Linked DNA regions of Homo sapiens. The protein of the gene in region 2 interacts with the protein of the main gene of each other region in a biochemical or structural test. Each region holds a gene or a part of one and is shown on either strand. Other genes may lie near its edges. The genes, in order: PLD1, PKN1, CCNT2 and AKAP9.

Region 1 (7,028 bases), on a different chromosome or scaffold from region 2:
GTCTTAAGATGTAGTATCTACCTAAAATGCCTGTTTTTCTACCTTTTTAGTCTCTACCTACCGAATTTCTACATATGTTCAAGGCCAGTTCCAATACAGGCACTGAACAAGTTATATTTTAAAAAATATTTTGGTTTTCAAAATTTTTTGGAATTTAGAATCGTGGTTAAGGGTTTGTAGACCTGTATTTCGTCTGTGGATCAATGATGACTCTTGCAGTAGGAGTATCTTCCCTCAATGAATTACTAAAATATTAGGTTTGTAAAATATTTAAAACTCATGCTCACCTATTAGATAACAAGCTATTTAACAGCACTAGATGAATCTTACACATCCTATCCATTGCATTCCTAAGAACAGTTTAGAAACAGCTTAATATTATCCCTTGTGACGAGACATTCAAATTTGAAAAGCCTGTCTCAACTAAATTGCAAAAATAATTTTTCCCTCACTTACCTATTTAATATTGCTTAAAAGGAAAAGATCAGCACATAGTTGCTGAATAGCATTAGGAGAAACACTTAATGTAGATGACAGGTTGATGGGTGCAGCAAACCACTGTGGCACTTGTATACCTATGTAACAAACCTGCATGTTCTGCACGTGTATCCCAGAACTTAAAGTATAATACAGAAAGAAAAAGAAAGAAAGAAAGAAAGAAAGAAAGAAAGAAAGAAAGAAAGAAAGAAAGAAAGAAAAAGAAAGAAAGAAAGAAAGAAAGGGAATAAAATTCAACACTTTAAAAATAGTATCAAGCAAAATTCTCCCTCTTAGAACATAATTCTGAATGAAAAAAAATCTTGAAAATGACTGAGTGATTTTGAAAAACATATATTTCAGATATGATTCCTAACCACGTTTTTAGTGCAGTTTTTCTATATAAAAACCCATAGTGATGTTCACTCCACACTGATTTCTGTATGACACCAGGAGGTTTAATTCAACAAGGAGCCCAATTCAACATGGTCATATGCGGTCAAGTGAAATTGATATTGCAGAGAGGCTAACTCTCTTTGCATTCTCAGGAAAAGGAAGTCATTAACTCAAGTTCATATTCAGTTTTAAATTTCTAACGAAGAGTCACTCCATGCTTAATTTGGGTTTCAAGTTTTATAAGGCAACCTGAGTTTTTAAGGTATTACATGATTTAAATCTAGAGCCTTGCTCTTTAAACTTCCTTCATTTTTTTAGTAGAACTTTTCTTTTTTGAAAACAAGTTCAGAAGGAACTCCAATAATTAAAACAGATACAAGTGGGATTGTTCTGGTTGAAGAGGTACCAATAGCTGTGGGAGGGTCCTGGGGTTCACCTACTTCAATGTTCTCCTCAAAGCCTTTTAAAAACTCCAGGATCCAAGGAATCGACTTTGGAAAGCACTGCTCTAGAAGGACCCCATGATCCTTTGGCTTTTCTTTTTAGGTAAACTGTTTTCATTTTAAAAAATTAAATTTGTATTTATATTTGACTATAAAAGTAAAATGAAAACAGTACCAACAATGTGGGAAAAAAATAAATCACCTCACGCTCCATCTTCCTAACAAAGATAGCATCATTGAATGTCCTTTGTCAGCTGCCTTCACGAACATATTTTGATACAGTGGCAATTGTCCTCAAATTTTCCTTGCTCTTCCCATAGCCACCTCATTTCAGTTCATGGAAATTCCATCTTTCCAGTGGGGCCAAAGATTTGGAGTCCTCTCCATCTCTCACATCTTGTATCTAGTTCATCGGCAAATGCTGTCAGCTCGACCCTCAAAATATATTCACAACCTGCAGAGTCACCATTTGCCACCCTGGTCTGCTCTGAAGAATGATCCTTGGAAAATGTAAGTCAGCCCTCGCCTACCCTTCGCTCAAGACCATCCGATGACTTCCTATCTCACTCAGGGTCAAAATCTTACAGTGGTCTGCAAGACCTCACATAACCCACCCCAGCCCACCTCTCTGATTTTGTTCTTATCATCCTCTCCTAGCCCACTTCACTACAGCCGTATTCCTGGAACACACCCAACCCCTCTACCTCATGGCCTTTCATACTTGCTATTCCTTCTGTCGGAAACACCCTCTCTCAGTTTCTTATCCTCATTCTTCTCTTTCTTTCGATGTCAGCTGAAAACTAACCTCATGAGAGATGTATTCTCCGATGAGCCTTTACAAAATAGTAACTCTTCTCCTATGCTCTTCCTCCCGGATCATGCTCAACTATTCTCCGTGATAATTATCACCACCTGAAATGTGTTTGACTCTCTATTTGTATACACAGTTCCCATCCTTACCCTCCAACTAGTTAATTGCACTTCATCTGTTTTATTCACCACATCTCTAGCACCCAGAATAGTGATTGGCATATAACAGAAACTCAATAAACACTTATTTAATTAAATAAATAAATCTTCTATGTTTATTTTTGTATCCCCAACTACAGTTGTAATCATTGCCCAATTCCATAAAAGAGATGAACCATTTGTTACCATTCATTATGTTCTTCACCATTTCCCTACTCTTTGACGTTTAGGTTGTTCTCTCTCTCTATCTCTCTCTCTGTCTCTCAACAATGCTACACTAGACATATATTCAGTTTATCAGTGAGGGGTTGTAAACAGATGTCAAGGGTACTTTTCATCAGCAACACCATACACATGTATGATCAGTGTCTCAGATCACCACTGTGGATATCACCTCTGTCAACCTGGGGTAGGCGTGAGTTACTTACTGGACTCAGCACCTCACTCACATCTTTTCCACTTGCTGTCAATCCTATTGCCAGCAACACTATCAGTCATAATTCAGATCCATAATCTTCATGGGTTGGCAACCTCCTTTCCTCCACTTCATTTTTAACTTCAGTAATAAAGCAGCAAAGTTACACATTGAAACGATAAGGCACTACCTGGAGCTGTTTCCAACCCTTTACCTCTAATATCGGCCACTGCATGCACTCTTGACCTGGCTTCCTAGATTTCCCAGAGGCCTCCTACTTCCCAGGACTTTGAAGCTTTGTCATGCACAGGAATTACTGGGAGTTGTCCCTGAATCCACACATACACCCAGTACTAGGTGTATGCTAAATAAATATATGTCTCCCCATATTTGTTCTTCTCCATTTTTATTTTTCAAAAATTTAAAAATTGTTTTTGTGTGTGTGAGAGAGGGTCTCCCTCTGTCACCCAGGCTGGACTGCAGTGGCATGATCTCAGCTCACTGCAACCTCTGCCTTCCAGGCTCCAGCAATTCTCCCACCTCAGCTGCCAGAAAAGCTGGGACAACAGATGCATGCCACCACACTCAGCTAATTTTTGTAGAGAGGGGGTTTCACTGCGTTGCCGAAGATGGTCTTGAATTCCTGGGCTCAAGCAATCCTCCTGCTTCAGCCTCCCAAATTGCTGGGATTACAGGTGTGAGTCACTGCACCTGGCCTCTTCTCCATTCTTAAATATATATCGATGCTGTTATGATTTATAGACACAAATTTATTTAACAGTTACACTGAAGTTTTAGTTCATTGTGTGTAGTTGATTATTGCATTTTTTAAAATGCAGCGTAGCTGGACCAAGCTTGTCCAACCCACAGCCTGTGGGCCACATGCGGCCCGGGATGGCTTTGAATGTGGCCCAACACGAATTCACAAACTTTCTTAAACATTGTAATTTTTTTTTGCAACTTTTTTTAGCTCATCAGCTATCATTAGTGTTAGTATATTTTATGTGTGGCCCAAGACAATTCTTCTTCCAATGTGGTCCACGGAAGCCAAAAGATTGGACACCCCTGCCCTAGATGAAAGAATGCTGGGAATCATTACTCAAAGTCTAGCATAATTTTTCAGGTTCATTAGCACCTGCAAGCCACAGGTGACTCACATTCAGGCATGTGAGCTAGACTGTAACTCTCATCTGCTAAACAGGACATGAGAGCCCTGGCCTTAGGTTCTAGCCAAAAAAGCATAACATAGTAATCTTTATTTCTGCTAAATCACAGGTCTTAATTATGGGCACTGGGAGGATGATAAATTGGAACTCCATTGGGCAGGTCATGTATCATCTCTAACCCTGAGTTTCTTCATCTGTAAAAAGGAGATGACAATATCACTACCAAGCACTGCAACTACTCAGGGCAGTGATGGATAGAGTCTGTGCAAAATAAATGTTAGCTTATGATCTTACTAGTGTCATTTATTATGATGATTACTTATCCCCATATCTGACCAGCGGCCAAATCCTTCTTTATTCCCACCACAAGTTAAACTTATTAGTCATTCATTAATTCCTCGAGTATCTGGAGTATCTTCTTACCAAAGGCTATCAGATTGTAATTTCTGAAAATTCACACAGCATGACACATCCACCCAAAGGCCTTCAAGATTTTTAACTGGCCAGGAGCGGTGGCTCACACCTGTAATCCCAGCACTTTCGGAGGCCAAGGCAGACGGATCACTTGAGGTCAGGGGTTCAACACAAGCCTGGCCAACATGGCAAAACCCCATTTCTACTAAAAGTACAAAAATTAGCCAGGCACGGTCATGCACGCCTATAATCCCAGCTACTCAGGAGGCTGAGCTGAGGCAGGAGAATCGCTAAAACCTGGGAGGCGGAGGGTGCAGTGAGCCAAGACGGCCCTACTGCACTGCAGCCTGGGTGACAGAGCAAGACTCTATCTCAAAAAAAAAAAAAAAAAAAGATTTTTAACCAAATAAAATTCCAGCTCCCAAATGTGAATGTCATATATCTTCTTAGTCTTATATCAAAAACTGCATTTTAGCTAAATAATGCATTTTACACAATTTGAAAGCAGTTGGTGCTTTCCCATTCCAGCACCTTTGCTCAACTCACCTCCCTCACTTGCAATGACTTCCTATCACCTACCCCAATTAAATTACTTCCAGGCCTAACCCAAATGTCCCCTCCTCAAAAAGTCTTTCTGCATCATCAGAGAGGAATTCCTCCCTCCTTCCATAGAACTTCCATGACACTATTGAATTGCATGTGCCATGCATTTTCTCTTATTAGGTCTGTTTTGTCTTTGCTGCTATAAGTTCTTAGGGAGTAGGGATCTTGGATACTACAGAATGCTTTGCACAGAGCAGGCTCTCAATAATATACGTAGCATAAAAATTGCAAACAGAAAGCCAATCTGGAAACACATTCACTATGCCCATGCAGCAGACAACACAACCAAAGCTCAAGCCTAAGGGAGTTCTGCCACTTCACAAATTACTTACCAGCATGAGGTCTAGTGAGTCCTTGCTCAGACTCACTGGACGGGTGAAAGAGTTTGAAGTGGGGTTTTAAACCATGGATTAAATTGTGATGACTTCTATAGTGATTAAAATAACCTAGAGAAATTAAGAATTTTTTTACAAAAAAATACAAATATCAAATTTTCTAAACTGGAAAGCAAAGCTGATCATTTTTAAAACCAGGCAGGGCTATAACATCAGTCTTAAGATTCTGTGCAACAGAAAATTGTAGGGCTTTAAGATGGATTTCAAAGGAATAGTAAATTTACAAGATGTAGAAAGTCTGATGTTTGACGAAATAAGCTTGATATATTTCTGGATAGGAAGATAAATGTAATTTCTTCTAAGAAAAGTTTATAAAGTACATCTAATACCTTTTTCTTTTATGGCTTGGCATATTTTAGAAACCCTTTGTCATTCTGCTACCATTAGAAGTGGTAATCGTGGTCGTTATGACTTTTGTGTGGATAAAACAATAAATCTGTTCTAAAATGAGGCAAACAAAGCCACCAAATGGCATGAGGTTGAATAGAATGATATAGCGACCTCTCAACATTGCTCATTCTACTCCATTACAGAAAGACAGATTTTAAAAACAGGTATGTAGTGTCTGGCTATGGAAGAACAGTGGGTAGTTAAGATAAATTCTAGTCAAGGCCATGACTTACTGGAGGTGCTGTCAATGCTGCTGATGCTATCTGCGTCGTGCAGGTGGTGCCTGTGGAGCTGCTTGTAGAGACTAAATTTGGAGAACTTTCTTGGCTTTCCTATTCCTTTCAGTTTTGAATCCACATCATCAATACTCTTCTGGATGGGTAGGTTTTGAACAGGCTCATTTTTATCTTTGAGTCTTAAGGATTCCATAGACTCCATTGCGGCAGGCTGAGAAAAATTTTTTTTTAAAAAAAGACACTGCATAAGACATGCTGCAGTGTGGTTCTTTAATTCAAGTAGAGCTGAAGTATAAAGTTTACAAATGATGGAGGTTCTATAACAGACATGCAATAATGTCTGAGGTCAGCCACAGGGTAGTGGTGGATTCTTGTGAACTGTTTAAAAACTACCAAAGGAATATGAGGAGTTCTGCTATGGTCTTTTTTCAGTAGGCCAAATTCTTGAAATTTCACTCCAATTAAACTTTTAATCTCAAATACAATTACATGGGTTACATTCAGTGTTGAGCTCCTGAACTTGTTCCTCTAATAAACATTAAGTAAGCAAGGCTTCCTCTGTCAATCATTTTCCCTGTTCCTTATGCACTAAATTGCTATTTTTGCATAAGTTTTGCACTATTTTCCAGCAGTAAATAAGATGAAGCCCATCAAATTTTTTAATAAGTGTATTCATATTCTGGCAGCCATTTAGTTGAAATAGCAAGCAGATTGATATACACTTTTTTTAATAAGTGTATTCATATTCTGGCAGCCATTTAGTTGAAATAGCAAGCAGATTGATATACACATACAGATATTTTGGCAGCTCTATTTAAAAGGCACTTTGGGAAGTTATTCACTTCTGGCTCAAATTCCCTCTAAATGACCCCAGACTGACCTATCCTGTTTTTGTATATCTTTAAGTAGGAACTTTCCAAAAACTGTGGCAGATACTTAAGGCTTTTTACTACCTAAATCTCAATTGCCACATATTTTTGTTTATGAATCTTATTTCTGAATAAAAAATAAATCTTAATTAAAATGGAAAACAAAGCTGAATATGGGACAGCCAAAATTCCACTGAATCTGTTTTCTTTTCTTACAAGAGAAGAACAGACTCAGCAATGCTAAGTTACAGCTAG
Region 2 (7,028 bases):
CCACGCTCACAGGGAGTCCTGACCTGGGGGCTGTGGAGCTGCGCATCGAAGAGCTGCGGCACCACTTCCGAGTGGAGCACGCGGTGGCCGAGGGTGCCAAGAACGTACTGCGCCTGCTCAGCGCTGCCAAGGCCCCGGACCGCAAGGCAGTCAGCGAGGTGAGGGGCGGAGCTTTCATTAGAGGCGGGGCTTCAGCAAGGGGCGGTGCTTCAGCAAGCGGCGGGGAGTTCACCAGGAACACCCACGGTGAGGGGTGGAGCCTCAAAGGGGGTGGGACCTTCATAAGGGGTGGGGCCTCAGCCAGGGTAGACTACTGTGAGGGGCAGGGCATCAGGCAGGAACAGTGCAACTGTGAGGGGCGGGGCCTCAGCGAGGGGGCATGGTTTCAGGCAGGAATGGCCCTCGGTGAGGGGAGGGGCCTCTCCAAGGGGCGGGGCCTGGTTTTCCCAGAGGTGGGACCAAGTTGGTTTGAGGTTTAGCCCTCTAGGGAGGAGCTCAGTGTGAGACTCAGCCTGGGGGTGGGGCCTAGGCCTGCACTTGGGAAGGGGCAAGCCTGGTCCCGCCCCCAGCCCCCACACTTCCCACCACAGGCCCAGGAGAAATTAACAGAATCCAACCAGAAGCTGGGGCTGCTGCGGGAGGCTCTGGAGCGGAGACTTGGGGAGCTGCCCGCCGACCACCCCAAGGGGCGGCTGCTGCGAGAAGAGCTCGCTGCGGCCTCCTCCGCTGCCTTCAGCACCCGCCTGGCCGGGCCCTTTCCCGCCACGCACTACAGCACCCTGTGCAAGCCCGCGCCGCTCACAGGTGGGTCTGAGACCCTACCCCACCCCTGCAGCCCTGGGCCTCCGACTCCTCTCATTTCCCCATTCCTGTGACCCCCGACTTCAATCTCCGCTCTCCCCAACCCTGGACTCCCATTCCACCACTGTCTCCTCCCCTCCTTTGCCCTCTGATTCTGGGCTCTTGCCCACCCCCCCCACACCTCAGTTTCTCCATCTCTCTTCACCTGGCCCAGTATTTTTCTCCCAGCCCTTGTTCCCCAGCCCCACCTCGGCCTCACAACGCTCAGCCATGAGCCTCCTACCCGCCTGCTGCAGACCAGCCAGCCCCACCTTCCACAGACCCCTCAGCCATCTACCCCTCCAGACCAGCCCCACCGTAGACCCCTAGCCCATCTTAGACCTCAGATTGTCCACCGAGTCCTCCCCTAGAACCCCTAGTCCTACCCTGTTCCTGCTTGCCTGGGCCTACGGCCTGTACCCTGAGCCTACGGCCTGTACCCTGAGCCTCTCTTCTGCCCCTAAACTCCCGCATCTGAGCCCCTCCTGGAAGGACTGCTTCTCTCATATTCTCCTATCCCAGCACGGACATCCCGGCCTCATGCCCCATGCTCCATTCTGGTTGTCCCTCACTGGCTCCCACTTGTACCATGGCTGCGTCTGGATGTGTCCCCTCCCCGCTGTGGTCCCCTCCGCTCAGCCTGCCCCAGAAGTGGCCCCCTGCTGAGCTTTCCCCTCCTGCAGGGACCCTGGAGGTACGAGTGGTGGGCTGCAGAGACCTCCCAGAGACCATCCCGTGGAACCCTACCCCCTCAATGGGGGGACCTGGGACCCCAGACAGCCGCCCCCCCTTCCTGAGCCGCCCAGCCCGGGGCCTTTACAGCCGAAGCGGAAGCCTCAGTGGCCGGAGCAGCCTCAAAGCAGAAGCCGAGAACACCAGTGAGTGGGCATCGTGGGCCCTGAGAAACGAGGTGGCATTGGGGACCTGGAATGCCCCATATTTGTAAACCTTTAAAAAATAAGCCAGGGGTCGGGTGTGGTGGCTCACACATGTAATCCCAGCACTTTGGGAAGCCAAGGTGGACGGATCACTTGAGGTCAGGAATTTGAGACCAGCCTGGCCAACATGGTGAAACACTGTCTCTACTTAAAAATACAACTTAGCTGGGCATGGTGGTGCACACCTGTAATCCCAGCTGTTTGGGAGGCTTAGGCAGGAGAATTACTTGAACCCGGGAGGTGGAAATTGCAGTGAGCCATGATCACGCCATTGCCCTCCAGCCTGGGTGACAGAGTGAGACTTTGCCTCAAAAGAGAACGAAAACAACAACAAAAACAAAAAAACAGGCCAGGTGCAGCAGCTCATGCCTGTAATCCCAGCACTTTGGGAGGCTGAGACAGGAGGATCACTTGAGGCCAGGAGTTTGAGACCAGCCTGGGCAACATAGCAAGACCCTGTCTCTACAAAAAATAAAATGTAAAAATTAGCCAGATGTGGTGGCCCACACCTGTAGTCCTAGCTGTTCTAGAGGTGGGAGGATCACTTGAGCCCAGTGAGCTATCATTGAGCCATTTCACTCTAGCCTAGATGACAGAGAGACCCTGTCTCTAAATTAAAAAAAAAGAAAAAAAACTTCAAGTTTATTTAGATTAAAAAAAAGGCTGGGCGTGGTGGCTCACGCCTGTAATCCCAGCACTTGGGGAGGCCGAGGCGGGTGGATCACGAGGTCAGGAGTTCAAGACCAGCCTGGCCAGCATGGTGAAACCCCATCTCTACAAAAAATACAAAAAAATTAGCCAGGCGTGGCGGCGCGTGCCTGTAATCCCAGCTACTCGGGAGGCTGAGGCAGAGAATTGCTTGAACCCAGGAGGCGGAGGTTGCAGTGAGCCGCGATTGTGCCACCGTACTCCAGCCTGTGCAACAGAGCAAGACTCCATCTCAAAATAATAATAATAATAATAAATAAATAAAACAAATTTAAAAAGAAAGGAAAACCAAACAAGAAACCAATATATCATATTCATTAGGATGACTAATACTATTTTAAAAACCCAACAAAACAAACAGAAAATAAGTGTTGGTGAGGATGTGGAGAGAAATCAGAACCTTTGTGCACTGTTGGTGGGAATGTAAAATGGTGCAGCCCTATGGAAAATATATTGGCATGGCCGGGTGCAGTGGCTCACACCTGTAATCCCAGCACTTTGGGAGGCTGAGGGGGCCAGATCACCTGAGGTCAGGAGTTCGAGACCAGCCTGGCTATCATGGCAAAACCCCGTCTCTACTAAAAATACAAAAATTAGCTGGGCATGGTGGTGTGTGTCTGTAATCCCAGCTACTCAGAAGGCTGAGGCAGGAGAATCGCTTGAACCCAGGAGGCAGAAGTTGCAGTGAGCTTAGATCGAGCCACTGCACTCCAGCCTGGGCAACAGAGCGAGACTCTGTCTGAAAGAAAGAGAGAGAGAGGGAGGGAGGGAGGGAGGAAGGAATATTGGCAGTTCCTGAAACAAGTAAAAACAGAGTAAGCAGTCCAGGCGCAATGGCTCACACCTGTAATTCCACCACTTTGGGAGGTCAAGGTAGGTGGATCACCTGAGGTCAGAAGTTCAAGACCAGCCTGGCCATCATGGTGAAACCCCATTTCTACTAAAAATACAAAAGTTAACCGGGCTTGGTGGTGGTGCACGCCTGTAGTCCCAGCTACTCTGGAGGCTGAGGCAGGAGAATTGCTTGAATCCGGGAGGCAGAGGTTGGAGTGAGCAGAGATCATGCTACTGCACTCCAGCCTGGGTGACAGAATGAGACTCCATCTCAAAACAAACAAACAAACAAAAAAACAAGAGTAACCATATGATCCAAAGCTACTTCTGGGCATATCCCCAAAAGAATTAAAAACAGGGCCTCGGACATTCCATAATGCATACATATTTCAAAACAACATGTTGTGCATGATAAATATATATAATTTTTATTTGTCAGTTTTAAAAATAGTGATAGAAAAATATTTAAAAAAAAAAAAAAGGGTCTCAGAGATATGTATACCTGTGTTCATAGCAGCATTATGAAAGCCAAAAATGGAAGCAACCCAGATCCACCAATAGATGAATGGGTAAACAAAACGTGGGCCAGCCATGCAATGGAACATTGCTCAGATTTAAAAAGGAAAGAAATCCTGCCAGGCGCAGTGGCTCATGCCTGTAATCCCAGCACTTTGGGAGGCCGAGGCAGGTGGATCACTTGAGGTCAGGGGTTCGAGACCAGCCTGGCCAACATGGTGAAACCCCATCTCTATTAAAAATACAAAAATTAGCCGGGTGTGGTGGCACATGCCTGTAATCCCAGCTACTCAGGAGGCTGAGGTAGGAAAACCGCTTGAGCCCAGGAGGCAGGCGTTGCAGTCAGCCAAGATCATGCCACCGCACTCCTGCCTGGGTGACAGAGTGAAACACTGTCTCAAAAAAAAAAAAAAAAAAAAGGAAAGGAATCCTGTCTTATCCTGCAACACGGATGAATCTTGAGGACATTAGTCTAAGTGAAATAAGCCAGTCCCCAAAAGACAAATATTGTATGATTCCAGTTATATGAGGTTCCTAGAGTAGTTAGATTCATAGAGACAGAAAGTAGAATGATGGATGCCAGGGAGTAGAGGGAGGGGGAATGGGGAGTTTATTATTTAATGTGGACAGAGTTTCAGTTTTGTAAGGTGAAAGTTCTGGAGATGGATGGTGGTAATGGTTGCACAGCAATGTGAATGTACTTAATGCCACTGAACTGGATGGACACTTTAAAGTGATTATGATGGTAAATTTTATGTTACATGTATTTTACCATAATTTTTTTTTTCTTGAGACAGATTCTCCTCTGCTGCCCAGGCTGGAGTGCAGTGGCACCGTCTCAGCTCACTGCAACCTCTGCCTCCTCGGTTTGAGCGATTCTCTTGCCTCAGCCAACCCAAATAGCTGGTGGGATTACAGGCGTGCGCCACCACACCCGGCTAATTTTTGTATTTTTATGGAGATGGGGTTTCACCATGTTGGCCATAATTTTTTTAAAAGAAAATTTGATTCGTAATCTCATGGCAAAAAAGGAAAAAGAAAGAAAATTAATACGTATGTACAAAAAAAAAAGGGAGTGTGGAGAAGAGTAACAGGAGAGCAGACACCCATATTACCACCACCTGCGTTAGGAAATAGAATATGGCAGCCAGGTGCCACGGCTCATGCCTGGAATCCCAGCATTTTGGTATTTGTAGGAGGATCACTTGAACCCAGGAGTTCAAGACCAGCCTGGGCAACATAGCAAGACCTTGTCTTTACAAATAATTTAAAAATTGGGGCATATGGCCAGGTGTGGTGGCTCACGCCTGTAATCCCAGCACTTTGGGAGGCCGAAGCGGGTGGATCACAAGGTCAGGAGATCGAGACCATCCTGGCTAACACAGTGAAACCCCAACTCTACTAAAAATACAAACAATTAGCCAGGCGTGGTGGTGGGCGCCTGTAGTCCCAGCTACTCGGGAGGCTGAGGCAGGAGAGTGGCATGAACCTGGGAGGCAGAGCTTGCAGTGAGCCGAGATCGCGCCACTGCACTCCAGCCTGGGTGACAGAGCAAGACTCTGTCTCAAAAAAAAAAAAAATTGGGGGTACATGTCATCAGGCCCTCCTGAATCTGTGTCACAGAAAAAAAAACTAAAGGGAAAAAAAGAGAAGACAAGCCAACCAAAAATTAACCAGGCGTGGGCATGGTGGCTTGTGCCTGCGGTCCCAGCTACTTGGGAGGCTGAAGTGGGAGGATTGCTTGAGCGCAGGAGGTCAAGGCTACAGTGAGCTGTGATTGCACCACTGCATTCCAGCCTGGGCAACTGAGCGAGACCCCATCTTAAAAAAAAAAAAAAAGGAAAAGAAATAGAATATTTCCAGCTCTCCAGAAGCCCCCTCTTGTCTCCTCCACAATTCCATCTCCTTCCTCTGCCATAGAGGTGGCTACTCTCCCGACTTTTATCATTTCCTTGCTATAATTTGTAGTTGTAGAACCCCATGTTTGCATCCCCAAAAACTTTTGTTTAATTTTGCCTGGTATTAGAACTTTATATTGACAGGCTCATACAGACTATTCTATCACATGGCTTCTTTCATTCAACATTGTTTAGGGGCTAGGCATAGTGGCTCATGCCTGTAATCCCAGCACTTTGAGAGGCCGAGGTGGAGGGATTGCTTGAGCCAAGGAATTTGAACCCAGCCTGGGCAACATGGTGAAACCCCACCCTACAAAAAAATGCAAAAAACAAAACCAAACTAAAAAAAGCATTGTTTTGGTAGACTCATCCATTTTGTTGTGACAAGCTATAGTTAATTCATATTTATTCCTGTTTAGTAATCCATTATGTTAGACTGAGCCATATCGAATTGCCTCTTTCTGAAAGCAAAAAAATAGTTAAATATCAGCAATTTCGTACTTCAGCTACTAAGATGGTATAGCAGTTTTAAAATATTAATTCTCCTGTTAATGGACTGTGGGATGCCTCTATTTTGGACTGTTACATACACTTTATATAAATGCATCTCCTGATGTATACCCACATGCATTTGGCTAGGGTAAATCCTCAGGAGTGCCTGGGCGCGGTGGCTCACGCCTGTAATCCCAGCACTTTGAGAAGCCAAGACCAGTGATCACTTGAGGTCAGGAGTTCAAGACCATCCTGGCCAACGTGGCAAAACCCCATCTCTACTAAAAACACAAAAATTAGCTGGGCATGGTGGTGTGCGCCTGTAGTCTGAGCTACTTTGGAAGCTGAGGCACGAGAATTGTTTGAACCCAGAAGGTGGAAGTTGCAGTGAGCCGAGATTGTGCCACTGCACTCCATCCTGGGTGACAGAGAGAGACTCTGGCTCAAAAAATAAATGAATAAATAAATCCTTAGGAGTATGTGGCTGGGACTTCCATGTAGAATAAAATTGAATTTGGATCCCTGCCTCACATCACACCATGTAAAAAAATCAACTGGATTAAAGGCTTCAATGTCAAATGCAAAACTTTACAGTGGGAGAAAAGTTATGGAGGGGAGGATTCATTTTAAAAAGATAGCAGACAGCTAGGCCTGGTGGCTCATGCCTGTAATCCCAGATACTTGGGAGGCTGAGGCAGGAGAATATCACTTGAGGCCAGGAGTTTGAGACCAGCCTGGGCAACATAACAAGACTCATCTCTACTGAAAAAAAAAAAAAAAAAGAAAAAGATAATAGACATGC
Region 3 (6,828 bases), on a different chromosome or scaffold from region 2:
CTCGGCTCACTGCAACCTCCGCCTCCCGGGTTCAAGCAATTCTCCTATCTCAGTCTCCTGAGTAGCTGGGATTATAGGCGCCTGCCACCATGTCCAGCTAATTTTTTTTTTTTTTTTTTTTTTTGAGACGGAGTCTCCCTCTGTCGCCCAGGCTGGAGTGCAGTGACACGATCTTGGCTCACTGCAACCTCCACCTCCTGGGTTCAAGCGATTCTCCTACCTCAGCCACCCCAAGTAGCTGGGACTACAGGCATGCGCCACCATGCCCAGCTAACTTTTTTTGTATTTTTAGTAGAGACAAGGTTTCACCATGTTGGCCAGGCTGGTCTCCAAATCTTGACCTCAGGTGATCTGCCCGCCTCAGCCTTCCAAAGTGCTGGGATTACAGGCATGAGTCACTGCGCCTGGCCAGAGGTTTTTAATTTTAATGAAGTCCAACTTACCAGTTTTTTCTTTCATGGATTGTACTTTTGGTGTTGCATCTAAAACCTCATTGCCAAACACAAGGTCAACTATATTTTTTCCTATGTTATCTTCCAGAAGTTTTACAGTTTTGCATTTTACATTTAGGTCTGCAGCCCACTTTGAGTTAAATTTTGTGGAAGGTATAAGGTCTGCATGTAGATTTTTTTTTTTTAATGTGGCTTTCCGGTTGTTCTAGCGCCATTTGTTAAAAAGACTATTATTGCTCCATTGACTTGCCTTTGTTCCTTTGTCAAAGGTCAGTTGACCATTTATGGGTGGGCTCTCTATTCTGTTCCATTGATCTATGTGTCTATTCTTTCTCAAATACCACACCGTCTTGATTACTGTAGCTTGATGTTAGGTAATGTCAGTGCAACTTCTTTGGTATTGTGTTGGTTATTCTGGGTTTTTTGCCTTTACATAGAAGTTTTAGAATCAATTTGTCAATATGTGCAAAATCACTTGCTGAAATTTTGGTTGGGATTGCACTGAATTTGTAGATCAACCTGGGAAGAATTGACATCTAAATTGATTCTTCTAATCTATGAACTCAGAATAGCTTTCTGTTATTTAATCTTTTTTTGTTTTCCATTAGAGTTTTATTATAGTTTTCTGCATATAGATCCTGTACATATTTCAGATCCATATCTTTTTTTTTTTTTTTGGAGATAGAATCTTGCTCTATCACCCAGGCTGGAGTGCAGTGGAGTGATCTCGGCTCACTGCAACCTCTGCCTCCTGGGTCCAAGCAATTCTCGTGTCCCAGCCTCCCAAGAAGCTGGGATTACAGGCATGCACTACCGCACCCAGCTAATTTTTGTATTTTTAGTAGAGACAAGGTTTCCCCATGTTGGCCAGGCTGGTATTGAACTCCTGGCCTCAAGCAATCTCCCACCTTGGCCTCCCAAAGTGCTGGGAGTATAGGTGTGAACCACTGCGCCCTGCCTAGATCCATATCTAAGTACAGGTTGAGTATCCCTAAATCTGAGAATCAGAAACACTCCAAAACCCAAAACTTCAAGCCCCCACATGACATTCAAAGGAAATGTTCATTGGCGCATTTCAGATTTAGAATTTTTGGATTAGGATGCTCAATGGCTAAGTTTATAATTCAAATATTTCAAAACCTAAAAAAACCTGAAATCCAAAACACATCTGGTCTCAAGCATTTCAGATACGTGATACTCAACCTGTATTACTTTGGGAGACGGTACTATTGTAAATGGCATTTTTAAATTATAAATTCCAATTGTTCATTGCTGGTGTATAGGAAAACTGACTTTTGTATTCAACCTTATATCCTAAAATTTTACAGAAGAAGTTTTATGTCTTCCTTCCCAATATGTATATACTTTTAATTTACTTTTCTTGTTAGCTAGAACACCCAGTACCACGTTGAAAAGACTGGTGAGAGGGGACATGCTTGCCTTGTGTCAGACTTTAGGTGGAAAGAATGTAGTTTCTCACAACAGAAACAATCTATTGTTAGCTGCAGAATTTTTGTAGATGCTCTTTATCAAGTTGAGGAAGTTCTCCTTTATTCCCAGTTTGCTGAGTTTTTATCATGAATGGATGTTGAGGATGGGCACTTCTTTTATTTGTGTGTGTGTGTGACAGGATCTCACTCTGTCACCCAGGCTGGGGTGCAACCTCACCTCTCAGGTTGAAGCGATACTCCCAAGGAGCTAGGACTACAGACGCCACCACATCCAGCTAATTTTTTAAAAAACTTTTGTAGAGGTGGGGTCTCATTATGTTGCCCAGGCTGGTCTAGAACACTTTGGCCTCCCAAAGTGCTGGGATTACAGCCGGGAAACACTGCACCTGGCCAAGGGTTTGCACTTTTAAAATGTTGCTTTAAATCAATCTATTCCAGAAATTGTAAGCAACATAAAACGTAAAGCAAGGGAAGTGAGTATGAAATAGCAACTGTTACAAAAACTGCCTACTATAATCAATATTCTTGTGCAATGCAGTATGCTGAGCGTGGGAGCCCCATAACAATCACTTGCCTCCATGGTCTTTGGCAAATAGATATTACTTTATTTTTTATTTTCGAGACAAGGTCTTGCACTATCGCCCAAGCTGGGGTGCAGCAGCGAGATCTAGCTCACCGCAGCCTCCACCTCCTGGGCTCAAGCCATCCTCCCACTTCAGCCTCGGGAGTAGCTGGGACTACAGGCGCGCCACCAAACCTGGCTAATTTTTGTATTTTTGGTAGAGACGGGGTATCGCCATGTTGCCCTTGCCCTCGAACTCCTGACCTCAAGTGATCGGCCCACTGGACCTCCCCAAGTGCTGAGATTACAGGCGTGAGCCACCGTGCCCGGCCTCCAAATAGTTAAGACTTTAAACTTAGAAACCCTATTCACAACACAAACTCCGAGTGAAGCTCAGTGGCATTTTCTTACAGGAAGAAATACAGGAGTTAATCAACAGGTATGTGGGATGTTCCCACATCAAATCCTAAAGATAAAATTTTAACTCAGTTCCTCCTGCACTATCTGATTCTCCCCAACCTTGTCTCGCAGAAACCACAGCGCAGCCTGAAAACACGCCCCGTCTAGATTCAACACCTCATTTAGAAATTCAATTTCTCGTTGCTAGTTGGATAGCGTTTGCCAAGTAATTTGAAAAAATAAAAATAAACCAAGTGGTCTGGGATTTAAACAAGATAATGTAGGGTGAAAAAAGCACTCAGGTGCGGACAGCCATGGAGCGTGACTTCCTGTGCACTCTTTCCCCGCCAGCTCAACGCCAGAGCCGCGCGCTAGGCGGAGACTGTTGGTGGCGGAGGCCGGAGTCGCACGCCTACGAGACTGCGCGGACCCGCCCAAAAGGAAAATGGAAGTAGTGGCGTGAGGCTGCGACAGTGAAGGTTATTTTTCTCTTTTTAAAGGGCCGCTAGACCTCCCGTCTAAAGGAAGCGCCCGACGGGCCTCCGAAGTACACGCCCAGGCCCCCACAGCGCAGCCGCCCGACCGCCTCTCTTCACACCGGCCAGAGTCCACCCTCTCCCACTTTCCCCTCCCCTCCCCTCCCCGCCCCTTCCCTCCCCACCCCTTCGCCCCGCCAACCCTAGACCCGGCATGCGCTGCGCCGACCTTTTCCTTCCGAGCCGACCTCTCCACCTTCGGCGCCTCCCAATGACAAGCGGCGCGGAGCATTGTGGTCCCGTGCGCAAGAGCGAGGCCGAGGGCAGAAAAAGAAAGCAAAAGACTAGGGCGAGTCGGTAGAGCGGGCCCCGCGCATGCGCAAGGGCGGAGGCGGTGGTGAAAAAGGGTGGTGCGTGGTCTACGGCGAGCGGAGTGGGGCGGGGTCGCGCGCCTTGGCGGGGAGTCCGCGAGCCAGGAGGGGCGGGGGGTGAATGAAGGAGCGGGCGGAGGAGGAAGTGTCATGGCGTCGGGCCGTGGAGCTTCTTCTCGCTGGTTCTTTACTCGGGAACAGCTGGAGAACACGCCGAGCCGCCGCTGCGGAGTGGAGGCGGATAAAGAGCTCTCGTGCCGCCAGCAGGCGGCCAACCTCATCCAGGAGATGGGACAGCGTCTCAATGTGTATCCTTTTCTGTTCGCCGCCGCTCACGCCCTGTTTCCCTTGCCCGGTCGCCGGGCCTGGTGCCCCGCGAACATGGCGCCGCCGGCCTCGGCCTTCGCTGGGCCTCGGCGCCGCGGTCAGGGAAGTAATGTTCCGGCTCGGGCAGTCGCGAGGGGTCAGCAGAGGAAGGGAGGAGGAGATAGGACCCCAGGAATGCGGGCCAGGAGCCTGCGTTGTGTAATCTGTTTGGGGCAGCGCGTGGTGGTGGCGGCGGGGGTTGGGAGTGTGGCTCAGGCGAAAGAGGAATTTTAGGGATTATTGCAGAAAAGGGGCGGCTCCCTGGACTTGTCCCTGACCCCGAAGGGTTTGAGAGGTAGGAGGGTTAGCGATGCTGAAAGGCCTAAGTGTTTGCCGCAGCCTTTCCCGGCTCTCGTCGCCGGCTTGATGGCGGCTCTCTTCTACCTTGGGAGCGTACTGGAGTTCTTTATGTTCTTGGCGTGGTTTTGTATGGGTGTGTGCGCGCGCGTTTCAACTGTTTCATTTTGAGTTTAGTTAGTCGTAGCCATTGATAAATAGTTCCAGGGCCCTCAGCGCTGTTAGAGTGAAAAGATCAGCAGTTCTTATTCCCATTTATTTGGCGTCAAGCCTATTCTCTTCCTGCCGCCCCACCCCCCGCGGGCATTTATTTCTTTATTTCCAGTTTGGGGTTTGGATTTGAATGGGAGGTATTGGAAAAGAACCTGGGAATTTTCCATCAAAATTGTTCTGGGAATGAGATCTTGCTTTTGTCAGATATTTCCTAAATATTACGTTCCAGCTCTCAGCTTACAATAAACACTGCGATTGTTTATATGCACAGGTTTTATATGCACCATTCTTTCACCAAATTCAACAAAAATGTAAGTACTAGTTGTCTGTTTTTACTGTCCGCAAATTTGAGGGTAAATCGATACGCAGAAAAAAAGTTGGTCATTGCGTTGTTGGATTTAGTGTTCTGAATTAACGGTAAACGTATATCACGTGATAAATATTTTGCTTCAGATGCGGTGTTTTTGTGTTTTTAAAATTTATGATGAATTAAACTGCAAGGCACTGTTAAGCTCTGCCAGGCCTTTTAAGCTAAAAAAGAAAAACATTTATTTCTTTACAGAGTTATTACATAGGTTTTCTTCATTTAAATTCTATACTTAACATTTGAATAATTTCAGTAGTGATGTACAGTGGAATTGGGCAAGCCTGGTCGTTCTGTGATACATCTTAATTATGTTGGACTCATTGTTTAAAAGACTGTCAATTGAGATTAAATTAATTATGACATTCTTTTGAAAGAGCTATTTAGTAGAAATAATTCATTTCTTCATTTGCTAACCTAGTAATTTCTTAAGATGTCAACGTTTCTGTTTATCACGTTAGCATCAGTTGTCTCCTAAAATTTTGGGTGATTCAAACGTCCACTCTTGCTTCAGATATAGTACGTCAGGAGTATGTTTATGTATTATTAGTAAAATTTACACCTGAATATTAAGGTATATAACCTGTAAACCTTGACAAATAGAGTAATGGCATTTTGTTGAAATGTTAATTTCATTTATGAAAGATACGAGTTTGGTGTATGTTGAGTAACACGCATACTGTGTTGTGTGTGTTAAAGAAAATTGCATATTGTTTAGAAATGTTTAACTCTGCTTTAATTCTGTCTTTATTTGTTACTTTTTATCATAGTTATTTTTAGAATATTATTCTGAAAGGTATGTGTAGAAAAATGGACCAAAGAAGACTTTCTGCTATTTGTGGATAGTCATTAGGACTTATTTGCTAAGAAAACAATCCTAGGAAAGATCCTCAGAATATTATTTTTGAAATGGAAGGAAAGGCTTCATGGTTTAGATTGAGTCCTACCTTAATCTCTTCGGATCCTATTTCATTTATCAGTTTGGCATACAGGTTTATCTTGGACCACAAGTATTTTAATATACATTTTGATCTCTTGAAGACTTCTTCTATTTCTTTTTTAAATCTGCATAATTCTTGCTCTGTTGCTTCTAGTTTCCTAGTTATTTCTTGTGCATAACATTTAGGTCAGTGATAGTGTTATGGAAGAGAAAGGAAGCCATTGGTGATAACATTTAGATTAAGGGAATTCATTATAAATTGTCTCCAAAGGCAGTAGTGAACTAATGAATGTTAATATAAATTTGGCATTCCTTACGTAACCCTGGATAATAATGGTAGAAATTACAAATCAAAATAGTTCTGACTATTCTTTATATGGCTACAGATGTCCCATTTGCCGAATCAGGCATACTTTTGTACTTCCAATAAATGATCTAGCCACAAGTCTTCACTTCTTTTATTTATTAATTTTTTTTTTATTTTTTTGAGACAGAGTCTCACTCTGTCACCCAAGCTGGAGTACAGTGGCGCTGTCACAGCTCACCACAACCTCTGCCTCCCTGGTTCAAGCTATTCACCTGCCTCAGCCTCCTGAGTAGCTGGGACTACAGGTGTGTGCCACCACTCCCGGCTAATTTTTGTATTTTTAGTAGAGAGGGGGTTTCACCATGTTGGCCAGGCCGGTCTTGAGCTCCTGACCTCAGGTGATCCGTCCGCCTCGGCCTCCCAAAGTGCTGGGATTACAGGCACGAACCACCGTGCCCGGCCATCTTCACTTCTTTGTTTTGAGCCCTCCTTATAATTTGTCTTTATGGCGTGGTTGGCGTGCTTTACAACAAATACCCTGCTTAAAGCCAGAATTCACAACTTTAGATTGTCATTTGCATTCTAGCTTTCACTATTTTACTTAAATGTTTTCCTTCAATAAAAAGGCCA
Region 4 (7,028 bases), on a different chromosome or scaffold from region 2:
TCTTTAGTTATGTTCATTCATTCATTCATTCATTCATTCAAGGCACCTTTAAGTCCTGTTTGCCTGGGACTCCTGTCTCTTTAAAATGATTTTACTTACCTACTTATGTCCTGATCCATTCTGTAGATTTCATGTATTTATTTGTTTTTGAGACTATAGCCCTCTATTACTTACAGAGGCAAGTAAGTTACTGAAGCAAAACTTTGACCTAGGGCCTCTGCTTGACTTTGTCATGCTGAAGTAATCACCATAACAGATATGCCTTGGCCTGTGTCTGGGCGTAGCCCTATCTCCATTCCAAAATAGAATCCCAAATAAGAACTGGGGGAGAGTATCTGCTTTGCTTTGAAAATTCTGTTTAAACCAAAAGTCCTAGGACCAAGTTGTTATGCCATAAATGGTATAGTTGTCTTAGATGTCACTTGAGGTTCAGCCTTTTAAGCATTGCATATCTCTAAATTTCTGACTGACTTAAGAGCCCAGGACTGAAGTTAAGACAGACCGTTAGGAGTCTGTTTTTGTTGTTTTTCTTTTTCCATAGCCCTTGCCCATGACACACATTGAAGTCACCAGAATACATGTGAGGAACTTTTATTTATTTTTATCTTTCTGAATGTGTCTAGAGTATATGCAGTACTTTAGCTATAGAGAATACTAAATATTTAGAATGTTGATCAGTTAATAAGAAAAATGAAAATGTAACAGTTTGGAGACATCTAAAATCAGACTGGGTTTTTAAACTAAAAATTTTAATCACAGAAATGTTAAGAGAAATTTCTTCTAAGAAGGCCAAAACTACTGTAGTGTTTGCTCACAAGTAGTGTTGGTTACACGAGTTCTAAGTGTCATTATTGTGGAAAAAATTGAGGGGCAGGACCAACATTTACTTTTTGTAGAATTTTTTAAAAGAGAAACTTCTGTCAGTCTTTTGGTAATGAGATGAAGCAGTATAATTTGCCAGAAGCTAAAAATGCCATTCTTACATTTTCATTTTTTTTCCTAAAGGAACAAGATAAAAAAGTAGAAAACTCAAATAAAGAAGAAATACAGGAAAAGGAGACAATCATTGAAGAATTAAACACAAAAATAATAGAAGAAGAAAAGAAAACTCTTGAGCTAAAGGATAAATTAACAACTGCTGATAAATTACTAGGAGAATTACAAGAACAGATTGTGCAAAAGAACCAAGAAATAAAAAACATGAAATTAGAGCTGACTAATTCTAAGCAAAAAGAAAGACAGTCTTCTGAAGAAATAAAACAGTTAATGGGGACAGTCGAAGAACTTCAGAAGAGAAATCATAAAGACAGCCAGTTCGAAACTGATATAGTACAACGAATGGAACAAGAAACACAAAGAAAGTTAGAACAACTCCGGGCAGAGCTGGATGAGATGTATGGGCAGCAGATAGTGCAAATGAAACAAGAATTAATAAGACAACACATGGCACAGATGGAGGAAATGAAAACACGGCATAAGGGAGAAATGGAGAATGCTTTAAGGTCATATTCAAATATTACAGTTAATGAAGATCAGATAAAGTTAATGAATGTGGCAATAAATGAACTGAATATAAAATTGCAAGATACTAACTCTCAAAAGGAAAAACTCAAGGAAGAACTAGGACTAATTTTAGAAGAAAAGTGTGCTCTACAGAGACAGCTTGAAGACCTTGTTGAAGAATTGAGCTTTTCAAGGGAACAGATTCAGAGAGCTAGACAGACAATAGCTGAACAAGAAAGTAAACTTAATGAAGCACATAAGTCCCTTAGTACAGTGGAAGATTTGAAAGCTGAGATTGTTTCTGCATCTGAATCCAGAAAGGAACTAGAATTAAAACATGAAGCAGAAGTTACAAATTACAAGATAAAACTTGAAATGTTAGAAAAAGAAAAGAATGCTGTGTTAGACAGAATGGCTGAATCACAAGAAGCTGAATTAGAGAGGCTGAGAACACAGCTTCTATTTAGTCACGAAGAAGAGCTTTCCAAACTGAAGGAAGATTTAGAAATTGAACATCGAATAAATATTGAAAAACTTAAAGATAATTTAGGCATTCACTATAAACAGCAGATAGATGGTTTACAGAATGAAATGAGTCAAAAGATAGAAACCATGCAGTTTGAAAAGGACAATTTGATAACTAAGCAGAATCAATTAATTTTGGAAATTTCAAAGCTAAAAGATTTACAGCAGTCTCTTGTAAATTCAAAGTCAGAAGAAATGACTCTTCAAATCAATGAACTTCAAAAAGAAATTGAAATACTCAGACAAGAAGAAAAAGAAAAGGGTACACTTGAACAAGAAGTTCAAGAATTACAACTTAAAACAGAATTGTTAGAAAAACAGATGAAGGAAAAAGAGAATGATCTTCAAGAAAAATTTGCACAACTTGAAGCAGAGAATAGCATTCTTAAAGATGAAAAGAAAACCCTTGAAGACATGTTGAAAATACATACTCCTGTTAGCCAAGAAGAAAGATTGATTTTCTTAGACTCCATTAAGTCCAAATCCAAAGACTCTGTGTGGGAAAAAGAAATAGAAATACTTATAGAGGAAAATGAGGACCTCAAACAACAATGTATTCAGCTAAATGAAGAGATTGAAAAGCAAAGGAACACTTTTTCATTTGCTGAAAAAAACTTTGAAGTTAACTATCAAGAGTTACAAGAGGAGTATGCTTGCCTTCTCAAAGTAAAAGATGATTTAGAAGACAGTAAAAATAAACAGGAATTAGAGTATAAAAGTAAACTTAAAGCACTTAATGAAGAGCTTCATTTGCAAAGAATAAATCCAACTACAGTGAAAATGAAAAGTTCTGTCTTTGATGAAGACAAAACTTTTGTAGCAGAAACATTGGAAATGGGTGAGGTTGTTGAAAAGGATACAACAGAACTCATGGAAAAACTTGAGGTAACCAAGCGAGAGAAATTAGAGCTGTCACAGAGACTGTCTGATCTTTCTGAACAATTGAAACAGAAACATGGTGAGATTAGTTTTCTAAATGAAGAAGTTAAATCTTTAAAGCAAGAGAAAGAACAAGTTTCATTGAGATGTAGAGAGCTAGAAATCATTATTAACCACAACAGGGCAGAAAATGTACAGTCATGTGATACTCAAGTAAGCTCTTTATTAGATGGAGTTGTGACCATGACAAGCAGGGGTGCTGAAGGATCAGTTTCTAAAGTAAATAAAAGTTTTGGTGAAGAATCAAAAATAATGGTGGAAGATAAAGTTTCTTTTGAAAATATGACTGTTGGAGAAGAAAGTAAGCAAGAACAGTTGATTTTGGATCACTTACCATCTGTAACAAAGGAATCATCACTTAGAGCAACTCAACCAAGTGAAAATGATAAACTTCAGAAAGAACTCAATGTACTTAAATCAGAACAGGTATGTTTACTTCTTCATATATGGTAAAGCACAATGAAAAAAATGTACATTTCACACTAAGGTTTCACCTTCATAGAACATAAGTTCATATCCTTACAAGAGAATGAAAATGAACCCTCTGATGTAATTTTAACTTGAGCCTATCATTTATTTATCATTTAAGTACTTTTTTTTTTAAACCATTGTTGCCTTTCTTTCAGTTAATCTATCTTGTATATTCTGCTCAGGAAATAAAACACTAATGGATTCAGATTTTCTTTGGAAAGACAAGAGTTTGTATAACTTTATGGAGAATCTCAGCATTAGAAAAGTTATTAATTTCATTTTGTAATTTTTGTTATAATCTCAAAGATTGGTTTCAGCGTTTTTATTTCATAGTGATGTTTTCAAGTCTCTACAACTGAAAATGAACTCCTAAGCTTTTTAATAGTCTCTATAGTTGTTAGGTGGTTATGAAATTATATTTTCCTGGGAGAAAAAAAAACCTTTGATTTAAGTCCTAGAGTTTTTTCAGAGTCTTTATTATACCTGAAGGGGAAAAAACAGTATTAACTCTAAATATAGTTAAAGAATTATATGTATATAATAATAGATCACTCCTGATAATTTATATTTGCCAGATACTGATATTAAAATAACAGGAAAATTCTGCTATCTACAATGTAATGGTGCTAACTAAAGTTTTATGTGTTTCTTCATTTTTCTAACATATTTATTGACTCTCTTGGCAAGTACGAATATAGTGGCCAACAAGAGAGAGGTTTCTGGTCTCAAAGAGCATATATTTTAGTGAGGGAGGCAGATGATAAATGAAACAAGTAGGATAGTGAGAAATAGTGATAAATTCTCTGAAGAAATAAAACAGGATAATGTGATAGGGAATGATGGAATTATTTCTGAGGGCTCTGTTCTGTTCCATTGGTCTATATCTCTGTTTTGGTACCAGTACCATGCTGTTTTGGTTACTGTAGCCTTGTAGTATAGTTTGAAGTCAGGTAGCGTGATGCCTCCAGCTTTGTTCTCTTGGCTTAGGATTGACTTGGCAATGTGGGCTCTTTTTTGGTTCCTTATGAACTTTAAAGTAGTTTTTTCCAATTCTGTGAAGAAAGTCATTTCTGTGAAGAAAGTCATTCCTGATGGGAATGGCATTGAATCTATAAATTACCTTGGGCAGTATGGCCATTTTCACAATATTGATTCTTCCTATCCATGAGCATGGAATGTTCTTCCATTTGTTTGTATCCTCTTTTATTTCGTTGAGCAGTCGTTTGTAGTTCTCCTTGAAGAGGCCCTTCATATCCCTTGTAAGTTGGATTCCTAGGTATTTTATTCTCATTGAAGCAATTGTGAATGGGAGTTCACTCATGATTTGGCTCTCTGTTCGTCTGTTGTTGGTGTATAAGAATGCTTGTGATTTTTGCACATTGATTTTGTATCCTGAGACTTTGCTGAAGTTGCTTATCAGCTTAAGGAGATTTTGGGCTGAGACGATGGGGTTTTCTAGATATACAATCACGTCATCTGCAAACAGGGACAATTTGACTTCCTCTTTTCCTAATTGAATACCCTTTATTTCTTTCTCCTGCCTGATTTCCCTGGCCAGAACTTCCAACACTATGTTGAATAGGAGTGGTGAGAGAGGGCATCCCTGTCTTGTGCCAGTTTTCAAAGGGAATGCTTCCGGTTTTTGTCCATTCAGTATGATATTGGCTGTGGGTTTGTCATAAATAGCTCTTACTATTTTGAGATATGCCCCATCAGTACCTAATTTATTGAGAGTTTTTAGCATGAAGTGCTGTTGAATTTTGTCCAAGGCCTTTTCTGCATCTATTGAGATAATCATGTGGTTTTTGTCTTTGGTTCTGTTTATATGCTGGATTACACTTACTGATTTGCGTATGTTGAACCAGCCTTGCATCCCAGGGATGAAGCCCACTTGATCATGGTGGATGAGCTTTCTGATGTGCTGCTGCATTTGGTTTGCCAGTATTTTATTGAGGATTTTTGCATCGATGTTCATCAGGATATTGGGAATGTTGGAGAGGGTAGTAACAACATTAAATATGGTGGTCAGGAAACATCTCTAGGAGGAATTGACATTTGAGCTGAAATCTGAATGACATTGAAATTAGAGCAATTGTAAAGACACGGGTAAGTTTAAAGAACAGAATGAAGGCTTGTGTAGTTGAGTTTGAGAGAGCGGGAGAGTGGAAGAAGAGTTTGAAGGAGGAAGAGACCAGACCTTGGAGAATCTTGCAGACTTTGGAAGCCATTGGAAAGTTTTCTCTTTTTATTCCTAAATATATCATATTTATGATCTTATATCAAATGTCGAGATATTTTATATTTATGATTTATATCAAATGTAGAGATATTTTATATATTTACTTGCCTAAATAGAGTCAAGAAATTCGAATTGCTTAACGATTTTTTTGTTTGTTTGTTTTTGAGACCGAGTCTCACTCTGTCACCCGGGCTGGAGTGCAGTGGCGTGATCTCAGCTCACTACAACCTCCGCCTCCCGGGTTCAATCAATTCTCCTGCCTCAGCCTCCTGAGTAGCTGGGATTACAGGCATGCACCACCACCACGCCTGGGTAATTTTTGTATTTTTAGTAGAGACAAGGTTTCACCATGTTGGCCAGTTTGGTCTCAAACTCCTGACCTTAGGTGATCCAACAGCCTCGGCCTCCCAAAGTGCTGGGATTACAGGCGTGAGCCACCATGCCTGGCCAAATTGCTTAACTGTTAATGTTCTGTTAAATGTCTGGAATTGTTTTCAAAACCAAAATGTATGGCAGTTACTTGTGAAAATGTCACACATCTTTTAAAATTTTTTAGGAAGCATTTTTGGGAGAAGACCTGAATTTGACCCTCAGATGGTCAAATTTTCTTATTAGGAATTCTAATTTTCTTTTTCTTTTTCTTTTTTTTTTGAGACAGGCTCTCACTGCCGTCCAGGCTAGAGTCTCATGGCGCAATCACAGCATCCTGCAGCCTTGACCTCCTGGACTCAGGTGATCCTCTCACCTCAGCCTCCTGAGTAGCTAGTATTACAGGCATGCACCACACACCCAGCTAGGTTTTTGTATTTTTTGTAGAGACAGGGATTTGCCATGTTGCCCAGGCTGGTCTCAAACTTCTGGGCTTAAATGATCTTCTTGCCTTGGCCTCCTGAAATGCTGGGATTACAGGCATGAGTCTTTGTCACCAGCCAGAATTCTATTTTCTGTACTAAAGAGATACTAAAAAGATACTTTTGATGGCATTCAGATTCCCTCTATTTGACATTGACTACATAAAGTAAAGCCTGTAAACTTCCTGCCCGTTCATCATTACCAAGACAAACCTTTATTGATGGGAAGGGAAGTTCACAGAAGAAATCGAGCAGTGACTTACACAATAGTAACACCTAAGAGCAGCCTAAATATGCTTGAAATAATGTGGATGCCACACAGATATCTCTAATACACTTAGGTAGTTTGGGCAGAAGGAGAAAAATAAAAACATCATAGAAGTCTTTTCAGTGTTGGGATGCAAGGAAGAAGGAAGAGTGGCAGGAATTTTTTAGATACTGATTAATTATTGATGCTGGGAGAGGTCATAGATTGAAGTGTATGTGTTTAAAATTGAAGA

What was found.
Region 1: the proteins of PKN1 (region 2) and PLD1 form a complex in vitro, tested with the Homo sapiens proteins (one study listed by BioGRID).
Region 3: the proteins of PKN1 (region 2) and CCNT2 form a complex in vitro, tested with the Homo sapiens proteins (one study listed by BioGRID).
Region 4: the proteins of PKN1 (region 2) and AKAP9 form a complex in vitro, tested with the Homo sapiens proteins (one study listed by BioGRID).

The regions. Positions count from the first base shown.
Region 1 is NC_000003.12:171,681,470-171,688,497, forward strand, and holds part of PLD1 (phospholipase D1), read right to left. Parts: intron 6,116-7,028; coding exon 5,902-6,115; intron 5,330-5,901; coding exon 5,216-5,329; intron 1-5,215. UniProt on the Homo sapiens protein: Function as phospholipase selective for phosphatidylcholine. Implicated as a critical step in numerous cellular pathways, including signal transduction, membrane trafficking, and the regulation of mitosis.
Region 2 is NC_000019.10:14,450,306-14,457,333, forward strand, and holds part of PKN1 (serine/threonine-protein kinase N1), read left to right. Parts: intron 1-12; coding exon 13-158; intron 159-590; coding exon 591-804; intron 805-1,523; coding exon 1,524-1,718; intron 1,719-7,028. UniProt on the Homo sapiens protein: PKC-related serine/threonine-protein kinase involved in various processes such as regulation of the intermediate filaments of the actin cytoskeleton, cell migration, tumor cell invasion and transcription regulation.
Region 3 is NC_000002.12:134,914,994-134,921,821, forward strand, and holds the start of CCNT2 (cyclin-T2), read left to right. Parts: upstream 1-3,828; 5' UTR 3,829-3,861; coding exon 3,862-4,019; intron 4,020-4,816; coding exon 4,817-4,898; intron 4,899-6,828. UniProt on the Homo sapiens protein: Regulatory subunit of the cyclin-dependent kinase pair (CDK9/cyclin T) complex, also called positive transcription elongation factor B (P-TEFB), which is proposed to facilitate the transition from abortive to production elongation by phosphorylating the CTD (carboxy-terminal domain) of the large subunit of RNA polymerase II (RNAP II).
Region 4 is NC_000007.14:91,999,843-92,006,870, forward strand, and holds part of AKAP9 (A-kinase anchor protein 9), read left to right. Parts: intron 1-1,005; coding exon 1,006-3,393; intron 3,394-7,028. UniProt on the Homo sapiens protein: Scaffolding protein that assembles several protein kinases and phosphatases on the centrosome and Golgi apparatus. Required to maintain the integrity of the Golgi apparatus. Required for microtubule nucleation at the cis-side of the Golgi apparatus.